Linked DNA regions of Homo sapiens: region 2 is linked to region 1. Evidence: fine-mapped expression QTL. A gene starts in region 1. The other region holds a variant in brackets. All regions are shown on one strand. Distances are from middle to middle.

Evidence for each region. PIP is the estimated chance that this variant, and not a neighbour inherited with it, causes the effect.
Region 2: its variant is fine-mapped to the expression of HOXA4 in whole blood (INTERVAL, PIP above 0.99).

What each region holds. Positions count from the first base shown.
Region 1 is chr7:27,128,436-27,133,803 of GRCh38, forward strand. It overlaps HOXA4 (homeobox A4), which reads right to left and starts at 2,322. Exons shown (of 2, transcript NM_002141.5): 1 at 1,683-2,322; 2 at 90-1,136. The coding sequence starts at 2,298. The coding sequence ends at 790. All of the region lies in intron 2 of HOXA3 (homeobox A3), which reads right to left. HOXA-AS2 (HOXA cluster antisense RNA 2) reads left to right here. Exons shown (of 4, transcript NR_122069.1): 4 at 1-325. RefSeq lists a silencer at 2,480-2,549.
Region 2 is chr7:27,160,392-27,165,759 of GRCh38, forward strand. It overlaps HOXA10-HOXA9 (HOXA10-HOXA9 readthrough), which reads right to left. Exons shown (of 3, transcript NM_001433944.1): 2 at 4,487-4,576; 3 at 2,047-3,450. The coding sequence ends at 3,212. HOXA9 (homeobox A9) reads right to left here and starts at 5,146. Exons shown (of 2, transcript NM_152739.4): 1 at 4,487-5,146; 2 at 2,047-3,450. The coding sequence starts at 5,066. The coding sequence ends at 3,212. RefSeq lists enhancers at 111-796, 1,671-2,170, 3,682-4,559, 4,560-5,368. The variant A/G (reference allele first, on the strand shown) is at 2,279.

The DNA of each region.
Region 1 (5,368 bases):
TTTTACATGCAAGGTCAAGTATCTCAATCCAGAGGACTTTTGTTTTCTTAATGAAAAGCTTAGAAAACACATGAATCTTAGATTTTTAATGTTTTTTAAATGGAGTTTATTCTTAGCACATGGCTTTCTATGTAGCCACATCACAATTTGTACAGTTCCACATAAGTCTAAATGCACTCCCCTCTCCCCAAAGACCGTGCCCCAGAAGGGGACAACAGTATCTCTGTAACAGTGTCTTAAATAAATGCAAGTAAGAAAAACTAACATGTCACACCTACCATCAAGGTCTACACATCTTAAGAATTAAATAATCTTGTGAGGTCCACAATGTCTACTCATTTATTCAGTTAAATACAAGCTTGGATGAGCTGCCTTAATGGGGGAAGAGGAGGTAAGGAAGGTGGGGAAAGGGTCTGTCTTCTTCTGCTTTCAACAAAGATGCAAGTGTATGTCCCCACTCAGCATGGGCTGTCCAGCTAGCTGACTGTAGCCATCTCAAAAGTATTTGATACCAAGTAGTCCTTCTCAGGTATCCACACCTGGCAGCCTTGTTTCGGGCCAGCAGGTTGTTCCACCAGCCAGCATCCTGGACAACTGTTCTCTCTTGGGTGGCAACCAGCACAGACTCTTAACCGGATAATGTCTTCTTTTTGATTATTCTTTTCACCAATTTGGGTTTGTTTTGGTGTCTATTATGGTCCAGATGGGGAGGGGTGGATGAGGAACGGAGCAGGAGAAGAGAAGAGAAAAGCAGGTAAGGGATAGAAACTGGTTAAGATCTCTAGAAGATTATATGGAGGAGGGAACGGGTGTGGAGGTGCTCGGGTGGGGGTGGGGATGGAGGTGTGGGCTCTGAGTTTGTGCTTTCCCTGGTGGGCCGGCAGAGGCCGAGGCCGAATTGGAGGATCGCATCTTGGTGTTGGGCAGTTTGTGGTCTTTCTTCCACTTCATCCTCCGGTTCTGAAACCAGATCTTGACCTGGCGCTCAGACAAACAGAGCGTGTGGGCGATCTCGATGCGGCGCCGCCGGGTCAGGTATCGATTGAAGTGGAACTCCTTCTCCAGCTCCAAGACCTGCTGCCGGGTGTAGGCGGTTCGAGAGCGCTTAGGCTCCCCTCCGTTATAACTGGGGTTAACTGAAAACCCAGAACCCCGAAATAGAAGGCCAAGGAGGAGGGAGCGGAAGAGAGGGAAAGGAGGAGGAGAGAGAAGGTGGGGTGGGGAAGAGCAATTGGACATCATCATTATATAATAACCTGACACCAAGTTCACGCAAGATACATAAAACGGCAAAGAAAATGTTTCACAGGCTATTGACAACGGGAAACACCCGAGAGCCATAAAGAATGGTGCTGGGCATTGGGGCTGAAGAAAAGCTTCAAAGACACATGGCCTGAAGCCTCTGCCAGGGCAATTAAATTTATGGGGGCTATAATTACTGCCCTAACAGTTTGGCGTCTCGTAAATCTCCTGATAAAGGGACCCTGGGTACAAAAGGGTTCTCATGTTGGGATCAGGCGGCTGGCTGGCGCGCACATACCCACATCTCACCGCAGCCCGGGTCAGATGGGGGCTCCCCTCCCGAGGCCCCCTTCCCCTGAGCCTCTCCCTCCTGACCCCGACCCTCGAACCCAGGCCCAGCCCCGGCCCACCTCCCGCGCCTCCCAAGCGGCGCCACGTACCGGCGCTGACATGGATCTTCTTCATCCAGGGGTACACCACGGGCTCCTTGCCCTTCAGGCCCAGCGGGCTCTTGTCGGCCAAGAGCAGCGGGCACGCGGGGGCGCTGCCCCCTGCCGGGACGCCTGGGGTGGCGGGGGCCGCCTCGCAGCGCCGCGGGGCCGCTGGGGGCACGGCGCGAGGCTGCAGGGGCGGCGGCAGCTGGGGCTGCAGGACGTGGCTCGCATGCAGGCCGTGCGCTGGGCCCTTGGCTTGCGCCGGGGGCTGCTCGGGCTGGGGCGGCCGCCCGGGGCTGGCGCCGCCGCGGTAGCCATAGGGGTAGGCGGTGTCCGCGGCCCCATGCGCGGGGTACAGCGCGGCAGCAGGGTAGGCGGGCTCGCGGGCGGTCCGCGGCGCGTAGTAGGAGGCAGTGGGCTCTCGGCCGCCGCCCGCGTGAGGGAGCTGGGGCTGCTGCAGCGGCAGGTGCTGGGTCGGGGGCGCTGGGGGCTGCTGGTAGCCGGGGCCCCCGCCCGGGCCGCCGTCTGCGCCGCCCGAGCCGCTGTGCTGCGCGTACTCCTCGAAGGGAGGGAACTTGGGCTCGATGTAGTTGGAGTTTATCAAAAACGAGCTCATGGTCATTAATTTGTGAAGTGCAAAAATACTAATTTTTCTCGCGTTGTCGTTTTTTCTGGGCTTGCCGAGGCCCCTCCCCCTCCTGCCTCGCTTCCCATCCCCCTTTCCTCTGCGCCCTTCCCCTCCCCCCGCTGTCAAGTGCCCACTCCTCCCCCTCCCGCAGACGCCGCCACCAAAGTTCGAGCCGCTCCTCCCCAGCCCAGCGCGCGCCCCGCCCCGTGCCCCACGTGCAGCGCCCCCACCAATGGGCGCACCGCGCGCGCGGACCCGGATCAGGAAACGCGCGGGTGCGTGATGGATGCTGCTGTCCGGCCCCTGGGCTGGGGGAGGGAGCAGGAGCTTTGGACCCCAGCCCCCCAGCTTTGGTTCCCGCTGGGAATTCAGGCCCTGTCAGGCTGTAGGTCCTCTCGGGAGCCCTCTGCCTGCCCTACTGCTGGCCTAGGCCTCGGGCTGTCTGGCGGCCGCGACTCAGCGCTGACCTCGGGCGCAACCCAGTCAGGCTTCGTGTCCTTCAGGGGTTCTAGGCTAACAGGCGAAAGGAAGGGCGTTGGGACCGAGGGGCATCCTGGTTTTTATGTACGCCACTGAGAGGCCACCAGACACATTTTCTCAACCGCAGATCCCCCTTCCCCACACCCTGCTCCTTGCGTGTCAGCCTGAGAGCCCTTGCTTTGAGAAGCTTGGCAGAAGCTGCAAAGGGTGGGCGGGCAGCTAAGAGAAATCGACCCAAGGATGTAAATCGAGGCCATTCCATTATAACTGGATGGACACTTTTCATTTTTTCCTTCTTTCAGAGACAATCTGTTTCGTGTTTTCCTAAGAAAAATTGGAACCTTCGTAATAGCATCTAATTTGACGGGGGTTGTCGATGTGAGAGCTAAATATGCCCGCATTTACTAGGTGCGATTGTGAGAGAGAAGGTGGCCCAAGGATGGGAATGGATAGAAGCAACACCTCCACAGAACCGAGCTTTGAAAACAATAACTTCCTATTTCAGAACTATCCCCAAACAAAAACAAGCTAAGGGTAGAATAAACACCTTGCCGGGTCTGATCGCTGATGGGTCTTTTCCAGCTAAGAATTTCATGTTTTCTCTTTTAGATCCTGCTTTCTCAGGCAGTATCTGAGGCTAGAGTTATATTTGCAGGACAGTCTATAATTTCTGAATTGCTGAAAATTAGCGTATTAACGATATCAGAAGCTCCGGAAAGGAGGGAGAGGAGACTGTTGCCTGCTATTTGGTAATTGAAATTTGATGGGTACACTAATTACGCCATTATTAACAAATAAATTACTTATTAATTCCACCTAATGTTGATCTTTGAAGTAAATACTGATGCCTTATTTGTGCTGTGTGCTTTCTCCCTTTCTTTTCTGAGTAGTAGACATATCTAGATCCTCTACTTTTCAGCCTAAATTAAAGCAGTGTAAACTAGCATAGTCACCATTCTAAAAATATTTTCATATTGGCATGCAAAAGCAAGGATTTTTCAGCTGGTGCACCTTAGTTGATTTTTCAAAGAGCAGTATAAACAGCCTTCTCACAACTGAGTCTGGAACGCAGACAAGGAAAATTATTTCCTAAGCCTGGAGACACTTGAAAAGGAATGTCAATTCTATCTTCATTCATACTGGTTACTCATATGAGTTACTAAATGCTGGAATATATCCATTTGATGGATAGTCACTTAATGCTTAGCCACATAAAGCCTATTATATGGGACTAATCTTTAAACTAATTTAGGAAAAGAGGTTAAAAAGGGGATCATATTAGCTTTCTAACTGGAATCACCCTGAAGAGGTACAAAGAGATTTTCCACGTTAGGTGTATATGAGTGTGAAGAGTGCTGTCCATTCACATGAGGCACCCTGAAAATTTGTTTTTAAAGAAATTTGAGCCACAGACAGAAATCAACACTGAGTGTAATCTTTAGCCATCCTCTCTAGACTGGAGGAAAAATTTAGAATGTGATACATCTACCTGAACCAATATCTCTCCCTAGCAAGAAAAAATAATATACACATAGGTTATATAAAATGTAATATAAATAATATATAGACATACGTATTACAAATCTGAACCCTATAAGTTTCAGGGGGACAAAAAGCATGACAAGGAAATCTTCCCTCCTTCTCATGTCATCAGCCTTGAGTACTAGGGTCTTAACCATATCTGTTTAATATTTACAGACACTAAAACACAAAATTCTGTTGTTTAGCCTCAGAACCTTGTACCAAGTTTCTATTTTTAAGTATTAACGAGACATAAACACTGTTTTGTATACGGTTAACCCAAACGAGTTAGCTGTGCCTGTGTTTTGTGTGATTCTATTACTTTAGGAAGATGGCCTTACACAGAATCCCCCAAGGCCTGTAACTTGTCTTTGTGGTTCGTATCATAAACACAAACGGAGCCAGGACCACCAAGTGTTATCTCAACACCGACATTTTGACATTTTACTGCAAGATTTATGGCTGTAATAAACAATCTCAGTACCTTTTCTGAACCTTCCTCAATCTCCCTTTGCAAACCATAGCATCATTCCATTGAATCAAATAATCTTTTGAAAAACATTTAAAAAAAATACCTCTTGCCTTTACACAATATCCAAGACACCAAAGTAAAGCCAGGAAGAAACTAACTCAATTAATAAACAAACTGAAGTTTACCAGCAGCATCTCGCCTGAGAAAAGATGGGATGCCCTGAAATGTAGCAGAGAGGGAGCATGCTAATCCTCACACACCAACTGGCTCCAGTCCCAAGCGGGGTGAAAGCGTTATCCTTTCCTTAGGAAACTGGTGAGCACGTTTGCTCATTTCCACGTGCAGGGATAACATATATTCCCAACAAAAGCTTTCTTAAAATCCCATTAGGTGAAATAACTTTTCATCATGTCCTCGAATCCCAGATGGAGAAGAGTGAAGGGAGTCGGAGGGAGAGGGAGGGTGCAAGGGAGGCAATGTTTTGCAGCTTGGTTTGAATCTGATTTGAATCATTTTGAATATATTTGTAACAGCATTCCCTCTTGAATGCAACCCTGTCCCAAGTTTCAAAGTGACCGAACAGTGACACCG
Region 2 (5,368 bases), 32 kb after region 1:
ACGGTGTGATTGTTATATTAAACATCACATTAAAAAAATAACCAAAGCAGTCCCTGGTTTGTCCCCCAGGATTCTCCTCCCAGCCAACTCGGCCCGGCCCCTATACCTACAGTGGTCAGACACCGAGATTGCCTTTACGCCCAATTTTCACCGCCTAATTTTATTGTCTCGATTCAAGCCAGCCGAGTCCCGGGGTCCTGGCTCTGTCTTGGGTTCTGGCTCGCCGGGCCCTGACCCAGGTCGCAGGTTTCGGGGGCCTCCTGGGCGGCCGCGGACCCCGCGGTCACGGTGTGAGCCCTCGGCACGCACCGTGCACACCCTCTGGGCGGTCATCAAGTTCTGGGGCTGCAGGCGTTCCTCCTGTGTCCGCCAGTCAGCCGGGGCTCTCTGGCGCCTGGCTGTGTCAGGCCTGTCCCAGCTGAGGACGGTGACCCTGGAGCCGCGCCCGCGCCTGGAGCTGCAGCCCCGCGGCCGCCCGGACAGCTGCAGCCCGGCAGCACTGGGCCCCCGGGATGGGGTCAGGGAGGCGCGAGCGGTGAGGGTCGGGCAAGCCCCCGCCGATTCCTTGTTTCCCAGCGAGGCTTCTAGCCAGGCTTGAGCAGCCCAGAAAATATAGGGCGGCTGTTCACTAAAATCTGGGGCTCCCATTCCAGAAAGGCTCGTGTCAAGTCGACATCTTAGGAACTTCACAAGGGTCGCGGAGGCGGGAGATGGCGGCGCGGAAGCCTCTTGCATGGAGCCACACTGCCATCTGCTGGCCGCCGTTTGGTACTGCAGCCTCAGCTACCTCCGCCGGCCTGAGCTTTGGGAGCCGCCGGCTAGCCCACCGCACCCCACTCCCAAACGAGGGGCGTGGGCCTAGGTCCCGGGGAGTCTGCGTGGAGCCCGGAATCTACTGCAGAGGAGGCAATGCCAATAAAAGAGGTGTTTCCGCAGCCGCTTTATCGGCGGCAGACAGAACAAATGAACAAATGAAAGGGCTTTGGTGGAATATCCTAATTGGGGCTGGACAGTTGTAAACTCATTAAGGGACGAATTCCAGACAGTTCGCAGACCCGGCCTTTATGGCACACTCTTACTGCCTATTCTTTGAAGTTCCTTCTGTCTGCAACAACAGAGGGCGTCCCAACCTGGCGGCGGGGTGGGGGTGGGGGTTAGGGGACGCCTCATCCACCCGCGCCCTGGTTCCCCTTTTAAGCTTAGAACACATCCAACTTTGCAGAAGTCGTGGAGTGGGGGAAGGGGGTCGGGCGAGGGAAGCAAGGGGGTGGAAGCGAGGCCGAACCCTCCGGCCACATCTGGAAAGCGCTCAGGCCTCCGAAGTTGTGGCCGTTCCCCCCCCCCCGCCCCTCGTAGCCCTTTACACCCCATAAACGGTAACAGCCCTCATTTTCTTTTATGGCGCTTAGGGGCTCGTCAATTGCCTCAGCCCTGCCTCTGTTAGGCCTTGTGCTCGAGAGGTGCTTGCAGTGCAGGACCCAGATTCTCTTGGGCCAGGCTGGCAGGACTCCGCGGGGGTGGCGGGCGGTGCGAGGATGCAGGGCTTTGTTCCTTTGCAAGCCCCCAAAATGTTTGCCTGCATGGCCACGTTGGGCCGGTGGGGCTCCTATTTCCCTCTTCAGAGCCTGCTTAGAAGGCGGCTCCCAGCTCTCTATCCTGTCACCCTCTCCCCCTTTTCCTCACCAAGCTAACGAAGGCCCAGGTTTGGGAATTTTCTCGGGGGCACCAAGGTGAGAGTGGTCTTTCCACTGCTACTGGCCAGACCAGACCAGCTCCTCAGGGGCTTCTCCGCCGTCCCGCACATAGACACAAGGCCGGGAGCCTGGCTCCTCCGCCGGGTTTCCCAGCTTTTTCTCGCCGCCAGGCAGCTGGCCTGTTTGGGAGAGCTTAGCTCGGCGGACTGGTTGTGGCAGGTCCCGCTCCTGAAAGCCAGCCAGAGGCAAAATTGGGGCTCTTTCTCACCACCCCAACCCGCCCCTACCCAGAGACTCTACATAGGCTCCCCTGACCCAGAGAAGAAGGTGCAAAGAGCAGACCCGCAAAAAATAGAAAAGAATCAATATATTTTATTTGGCAAAAAGTTAAATATCATCTCAACACAACAATTTGGTCAGTAGGCCTTGAGGTAACTATTGCAAAATATACAGTGTAAGTTCAGTCTGATGGAAACCCCAGATTCATCAAGGATACAAATCTACAGTAGCCCAATGGCGGTTTCATAGTGTATAATTTATTATCAATAAAATTAACTCCGTTACAATCAGCATTCATTTCCTCC[A/G]ATTAAAATTAAGCATAAACCCTAGGTAGTAACCTTCTGCACATATGTATAGCTCCGAATTTCCTCACTGTTCGTCTGGTGCAAAAACAATATTCAAGCTTGTCTGATTATGCATATTTTCTTTAATCATATAGATTATATATACAATAGACAAGACAGGACTATATAGATAATGGACAGACTTAAATGCCCGCATTTTTAAGGTGGAGAAAATGATGAATCTATGCATCCCCGAGAACACTTAAAATTTTTTTTTATTTCACTGGGAAATTCTTACAGCTACTTTACAATCATAGGTTAACAGCCTAGTTATACAGAAGACATATTCCACTACAGAGCTATACTCTATGCAACTGTTTTTTTCCCCTCATAAACAACCTGAGTTCAAATTGAATTCTATCTTCCACAATCACAATGGGTGCATCACCCAGTACACAGAAGTTTGAATCACAAAACATAATTACCACAATAAAACACAGTGTTCAAGTATCTTGGCAGAGCAATCTGCCGCACAAACTGCAAATTAAATTAACTACACAGACTAAAAACTATACAGCCTACCATCAACAGTTGTGCATTATAAAAAGGTAGTTTCTTTCCTTTTGTTTTAAGTCAGGAACAGGTAGATTTTTAAAAATATATATACAAGCTAACACACACAGCTATCAGCACTAATGCCCCCCCCTCAACTTTTCCTTTTTCTTATAGAAAATGGAAAGCTTACAATACCTCCTCCATCAAAGCGGCAGGCCTACGAGCCAGCCTGAACAGGGTTTGCCTTGGAAAAGATGTGGCCTGAGGTTTAGAGCCGCTTTGTGCGGGGATGGTGGAGGCTAGGGTGGGGGTGAGAGAAGGGAGAAGGCGGAAGGGGGACGGACAGTTCTTTCTTTTTCTCTCTAGCTTACCCTTTTTTCTAAATAAGCCCAAATGGCATCACTCGTCTTTTGCTCGGTCTTTGTTGATTTTCTTCATTTTCATCCTGCGGTTCTGGAACCAGATCTTGACCTGCCTCTCGGTGAGGTTGAGCAGTCGAGCCACCTCGTACCTGCGGTCCCTGGTGAGGTACATGTTGAACAGAAACTCTTTCTCCAGTTCCAGGGTCTGGTGTTTTGTATAGGGGCACCGCTTTTTCCGAGTGGAGCGCGCATGAAGCCAGTTGGCTGCTGGGTTATCTGCGGGGAAGAGAAACACTGGGTTTAGGAGCAGAAGACGCACATCCCGCTGGGGCAAATGAGCCTCCTGCATGGGGTCTCTGGCCGAAGTGCAGAACTCTGCTGAACTGGTTAGGAAAGGCAGTCAGGCCTCGGACACAATGGAACCCTGGCAGACAGACGCACAGACAGTCACTTAAAATTGCACGCAGTAAAACTTTGGCTCGCCCTCCCCTCCGAGACCTTCCTTTCTCCTACTCTGTCCTCTTGTCCCCCTTCTCCTTCCTCCCACTCTCAAAACGCTGTATAGAATGAAATTTGGAAACAGGTCTCCTTGCCACGCAGAGGGAAAGCATGCTGCCTTGTGTTCTGTAGCAAGATTAGGATTCCTCTGTCCCGTTCACTGACTTCGTCTTTCTTTCCCAACCTGTCCCTCTACGCCCCCCACTCCTTATTTAACCTTCCTGGAAGGCCTTCGGAGCTGGGCAAGCCGTCAGGGCGCCCTAAGGCCGCTGATCACGTCTGTGGCTTATTTGAATAATCTGTCATGGGGACCCTTGTGGCCCGGGTCGCCCGCAGCCTCATCTTGGCAGGATTTACGCCGCCACTGGCCGAAGGCAAGAAGTGGAAGGAATCGGCCGTCTCCCCCAGCGTCCCAGCTCCGGCTGCCCTGGCTGCCGCCGCTCACGGACAATCTAGTTGTACAAAAGGCTCTCTGGGCTGCACTGCTTTCGAAGAACGGCCCAAAGTATCTCGGTCCTGGGCCTGGGCAGCCAAGGAGAGGGGCGGCCAGTCTTGGCTCGTCCCGAAGTGCCCGCCCCGCCCCCTCTCGCTGCAGCAGCCGCCTCCTCTCCCGTAGCCCTGCGGGCCGCTCTTCACTGCTCTCCAGACTTGGGGCCCTATCTGAGGCGTCCCAAACACCAACTTCTGGCTCCTGGCCCCAACTCGAGAGGCTTCCAGCGAGGACGAAGGCAGGCTCGAGAGAAACCTGGCGGGCCAGCAGATCCGGGAGGCCGGCGTGGAGGCGGCGGCGGATTTGAAGGGAGGAGACACTTACTGGGATCGATGGGGGGCTTGTCTCCGCCGCTCTCATTCTCAGCATTGTTTTCAGAGAAGGCGCCTTCGCTGGGTTGTTTTTCTCTATCAACTGGAGGAGAACCACAAGCATAGTCAGTCAGGGACAAAGTGTGAGTGTCAAGCGTGGGACAGTCACCCCTTCTGGCCGACAGCGGTTCAGGTTTAATGCCATAAGGCCGGCTGGAGGGCAAGCCCGCGAAGGAGAGCGCACCGGGCGTGGGCTCCAGCCAGGAGCGCATGTACCTGCCGTCCGGCGCCGCCGCCGCCACGGGCGCCTGGGGGTGCACGTAGGGGTGGTGGTGATGGTGGTGGTACACCGCAGCGGGTACAGCGTTGGCGCCCGCCGCGTGCACTGGGTTCCACGAGGCGCCAAACACCGTCGCCTTGGACTGGAAGCTGCACGGGCTGAAGTCGGGGTGCTCGGCCAGCGTCGCCGCCTGCCGGGGAGGCTGGCCCAGGGTCCCCGGCGCATAGCGGCCAACGCTCAGCTCATCCGCGGCGTCGGCGCCCAGCAGGAACGAGTCCACGTAGTAGTTGCCCAGGGCCCCAGTGGTGGCCATCACCGTGCCCAGCGCCTGGCCCGCCCGGCCCGACCCACGGAAATTATGAAACTGCAGATTTCATGTAACAACTTGGTGGCACCGGGGGGGAAGTACAGTCACCTAATAAGTTGCCGGCGCCCGCGCCCCCATTGGCCGTGCGCGTCACGTGCCCGTCCAGCAGAACAATAACGCGTAAATCACTCCGCACGCTATTAATGGTCCGATGTTTTGCAGTCATAATTTTTATAGCAAAAGCCATATGTTTTTATGTAAAGGGATCGTGCCGCTCTACGATGGGGTTTGTTTTAATTGTGGCCAAC